Linked DNA regions of Homo sapiens. The protein of the gene in region 1 purifies or fractionates together with the protein of each later gene. This does not show direct contact. Each region holds a gene or a part of one and is shown on either strand. Other genes may lie near its edges.

What was found. Proteins that work in one complex are often made in the same cells at the same time.
Region 2: the proteins of ZNF808 (region 1) and ADISSP fractionate together in Homo sapiens (co-fractionation; one large-scale study listed by BioGRID). This does not show direct contact.

What each region holds. Positions count from the first base shown.
Region 1 is NC_000019.10:52,554,252-52,556,836, forward strand, and holds the end of ZNF808 (zinc finger protein 808), read left to right. Parts: coding exon 1-1,377; 3' UTR 1,378-2,085; downstream 2,086-2,585.
Region 2 is NC_000020.11:3,755,381-3,757,753, forward strand, and holds part of ADISSP (adipose-secreted signaling protein), read right to left. Parts: intron 228-2,373; coding exon 89-227; intron 1-88. UniProt on the Homo sapiens protein: Adipocyte-secreted protein (adipokine) that acts as a key regulator for white adipose tissue (WAT) thermogenesis and glucose homeostasis at least in part through activation of protein kinase A (PKA).

The DNA.
Region 1 (2,585 bases):
AAGAGAATTCATACTGGAGAGAAACCATACAAATGTAAGGTTTGTGATACAGCTTTCACGTGTAATTCACAGCTGGCACGACATAGAAGAATTCACACTGGAGAGAAAACTTACAAGTGTAATGAGTGTCGCAAGACCTTCAGCCGCAGGTCATCCCTTCTATGCCATCGTAGACTTCATAGTGGTGAAAAACCTTACAAGTGTAATCAGTGTGGCAATACCTTCCGTCACCGGGCATCCCTTGTATACCATCGTAGACTTCACACTCTAGAGAAATCTTACAAATGTACGGTTTGTAACAAGGTTTTCATGCGTAATTCAGTCCTGGCTGTACATACTAGAATTCACACTGCAAAGAAACCTTACAAGTGTAATGAATGTGGGAAAGCTTTTAATCAACAATCACATCTTTCACGTCATCGTAGACTTCATACTGGAGAGAAACCTTACAAATGTGAAGCATGTGACAAAGTTTTTGGTCAGAAATCAGCTCTTGAGTCACATAAGAGAATTCATACTGGAGAGAAACCATACAGATGTCAGGTTTGTGACACAGCTTTCACGTGGAATTCACAGCTGGCACGACATACAAGAATTCACACTGGAGAAAAAACTTACAAGTGTAATGAGTGTGGGAAGACCTTCAGTTACAAGTCATCACTTGTATGGCATCGTAGACTTCATGGTGGAGAGAAATCTTACAAATGTAAGGTTTGTGACAAGGCTTTCGTGTGTCGTTCCTATGTGGCAAAACATACTAGAATTCACAGTGGAATGAAACCTTACAAGTGTAATGAGTGCAGCAAGACCTTCAGTAACAGGTCATCCCTTGTATGCCATCGTAGAATTCATAGTGGTGAGAAACCTTACAAGTGTAGTGAGTGCAGCAAGACGTTCAGTCAGAAGGCAACCCTTCTATGCCATCGTAGACTTCATAGTGGTGAGAAACCTTACAAGTGTAACGACTGTGGCAATACCTTCCGTCACTGGTCATCCCTTGTATACCATCGTAGACTTCATACTGGAGAGAAATCTTACAAATGTACGGTTTGTGACAAGGCTTTCGTGCGTAATTCATACCTGGCAAGACATATTAGAATTCACACTGCAGAGAAACCTTACAAGTGTAATGAATGTGGAAAGGCTTTTAATGAACAATCACACCTTTCACGTCATCATAGAATTCATACTGGAGAGAAACCTTACAAATGTGAAGCATGTGACAAAGTTTTCAGTCGCAAATCACACCTTAAAAGACATAGGATAATTCATACTGGAGAGAAACCTTACAAGTGTAATGAGTGTGGCAAAGCCTTTAGTGACCGGTCAACACTTATTCACCATCAGGCAATTCATGGTATAGGGAAATTTGATTAATATAATGATTGTCACAAAGTCTTCAGTAACACTACAACAATTGCAAATCATTGGAGAATCCATGATGAAGAGAAATCTTCTGAGTGTAATAAATGTGGCATGTTTTTCAGACATTGTTCATACATTGCAGTTCATTGGCAACCTCATACTGGAGAGAAACCTTACAAATGTCATGATTGAGGCAAGGTCTTCAGTCAAGCTTCATCCTATGCAAAACAGGAGAATTCATACAGGAGAGAAACCTCACAAGTGTGATGATTGTGGCAAAGCCTTTACTTCACATTCACACCTCGTTGGACATCAGAGAATCCATACTGGACAGAAATCTTGCAAATGTCATCAGTGTGGCAAGGTCTTCAGTCCGAGGTCACTCCTTGCAGAACATGAGAAAATTCATTTTTGAGATAACTGTTCCCAATGCAGTGAGTATAGCAAACCATCAAGCATTAATTGACATTGGAGTCAATTCAGCATTGACTTGAGTTTGTGTTGACTTAACATTGAGTTCAAGCCTTAATTGACATTCAAGTGTTTATGTTAAGAGGATGGGGCCAGGTGTGGTGGCTCAGGCCTGTAATCCCAGCACGTTGGAAGACCAAGGCACATAGGTCACTTGAGGTCAGAAGTTTGAAACCACCATGGCCAACAGATGTCGGCCACTTTCGCCATCCTGTTTTTTGTTTCTTATTTTCTTATTTATTTATTTATTTATTTTGAGATGGAGTGTCACTCTTGTTGCCCAGCCTAGAGTGCAATGATGTGATCTCAGCTCACCACAACCTCCGCCTCCCGGGTTCAAGCGATTCCTCTGCCTCAGCCTCCCTAGTTGCTGGGATTACAGGCATGTGCCACCACACCCGGCTAATTTTTTGTATTTGTAGTAGAGACGGGGTTTCTCCATATTAGGCTGGTCTTGAACTCCCAACCTCAGGTGATCTGCCCACCTTGGCATCCCAAAGTCCTGGGATTACAGGCATGAGCCACCGTACCCGGTCTTGTTTCTTATTTTCTATTTTTTATTTTTTTGAGAGGCAGGAGAATGGCGGGTGAACCCAGGAGGTGGAGCTTGCAGTAAGCCCAGATAGCACCATTGCAACTCCAGCCTGGGAGACAGAGTGAGACTCCGTCTATTAAAAAAAAAAATTATAAATAAAAAAATGTATTTTAACCAGTTAGTCTGGTTTTCAGTTTCCTTTCCTTATGTCATT
Region 2 (2,373 bases), on another chromosome or scaffold:
CTGCCCATCCACCCTAGTTGGAAGTAAGGGAGCACCCCATGTTCTCACTCCCACACCCATCCAGGCCCTGCTGGAGGAGGGGACGCACCTTCAGGGACGGGCACCACGCTGAGGAGCTTGAGGTGCAGGCTGGGGACAGGTGCCTCGCGGACATCCTTGCTCAGCCTGTGCACTGGGGGCAGAGTGAAGGTAATCTCATACCTGTGCAGGATCTTCAGGAAGCCAACCTACAGCAGGAGAGGTGAGGGAGGGAGGCACCTTCACTTCCTGCTTCCCGCAGGCCCACCCAGTTGTGCCACCTATGATCCCATGCGCCCCAGCACCTGCTTCCCCAGAGAGCCCAGAAAGCCCAACTCCCTCCATCACTCCAGCTGATCGACCCCCAGCCCAGTGGCCCCAGCCCTTTCACAGACCCCTTGAGGGTCCCAGCCCTACAGCTTGGCCAGCAAGATCCTCAGCATCTGTCTCACGGGCCCCAAAGTCCTCAGTGGCTCATTTCATAGACAGGAAAATGGAAACCACAAAATGACTGGCCAAAGGCTATGTAGTGTGGCCAGGGTCAAGTCCTCCCTAGACTTCTTGGCCATTCCTGCTATGCATGGCACCCAGCAAGGCACCACCCACTGCCTACAAGGGAAAGTTCAAAGTCCCATGGGTCATTCACCTGTCCCCATCACTGCCAGTATCCCAGGGTCAGGGATGCTGGTCCTCCATTCGCTCATAGGATGACACCAGGCCACAGATAGCGTGGGATGAGGGATGGGATCAAATTAGAGATATGACAGTAGACCAGCTGTGTCAGCCCAGAGCTGGCCCACAGGCCTGGCACCAGCCACTGAACTGGGGCTCCTGGCTGCCCTGCTGGCACTGGACTGGGGATGCCTGCCTGCCCACTCAAAGGCTGTGTCCAATGGCCCATACTCACGACCCAAGCAATTTCTGTTGTTCATTCACAGTGCTTGGTGACAACCACCCTCTGGGACAAATGCCATTCTTGGAAACTCCAGTAGTATGAAGGGTCACAAGCCAGGGTGGTTGCTGAGCAGGGGGGCTGGTGGGGGTGCCACGCCAGCAGGCAAAGGGTGCCTGCTGTACTCCCAGCTTGCATGGGCACACAGAGTCCTGCTCACAGTTACTGGGGCTGGGCAGCCCCATCCCTGGGGGCCAACTGGGACTGGCTGCAGAGAGTTTTAGCCATTCAATGGGACCAGGTTGATATTGCTACATGACAAACTTCAATCCATGTGCCCCCCTCATGCTCTGCTGGTAGGGGGCACATCCCTCAAGAAGGCTTTCTGGCTGTACCTGCTAACTGTGACCCTGTGACCCAGGGGTACTACTTATAGAATTTTCCAGGGGAAATAGAGATGTGCAGAAAAATACTCTTCGCTGCCCTATTTATAACAATGAAAACAAAAACAGCCGTAACACCCAGGAACAGGGAGCCAGCTAAGTCAATGATGACACGTATCATGGACCAGTAGGCAGTTGTAAAATCTCGTGGAAAATTATTTACTGACACAGGTAGGAGACAGTTCACAACAGAAGCAAGCAAAAACCAGTGTGGACACGGTGAGGCCAGCTTTTGTTTTTGGAAACAAAGCTTTTTAAAATAAGCTGGATCCATCACCATAGTGTTTTCAGAAAAATAAATAAATAAATAAATAACATTTTAAAAAGCTGGAATAAGCCAGGTGTGGTGGCTCACGCCTGTAATCCCAGCACTTTGGGAGGCCGACACGGACGGATCACGAGGTCAGGAGATCGAGACCATCCTGGCCAACAGAGTGAAACCCCGTCTCTACTAAAAATATAAAAAATTAGCTGAGAGTGGTGGCACGCGCCTGTAATCCCAGCTACTCTGGAGGCTGAGGCAGGAGAATTGCTTGAACCTGGGAGCTGGAGGTTGCAGTGAGCTGAGATGGCGCCACTGTACTCCAGCCTGGAGACAGCAAGACTCCGTCTCAAAAAGAAAAAAAAAAGCTGAAATAACACACATCAGAATATTAACCATGGTTATTTTGGGATAGTATGACTGTGGGTACTTTTAAATTTCTTCATATTTTCTCTGTCTTCCAAATTTTCTCATGTCTATTAAGACATGAGTGGATTTTGCAATGAGGGGAGAGAGCTATTTTTAAGTGTTGGTTTGTTCCATTTACTCTCTTGGGGAAGCTGTCAGCTGTAGGACAAAGAGTGGGAACTTCAGAGTTGGACAGAAATGGATACAAACCTGGGCCCCCCAGGTTCTTTTTTGTTTGTTTGTTTGAGACAGAGTCTTTCTGTTGCCCAGGCTGGAGTGCAGTGGCACAATCTCAGCTCACTGCAACCTCAGCCTCCTGGGTTCAAGCAATTCTTCTGCCTCAGCCTCCC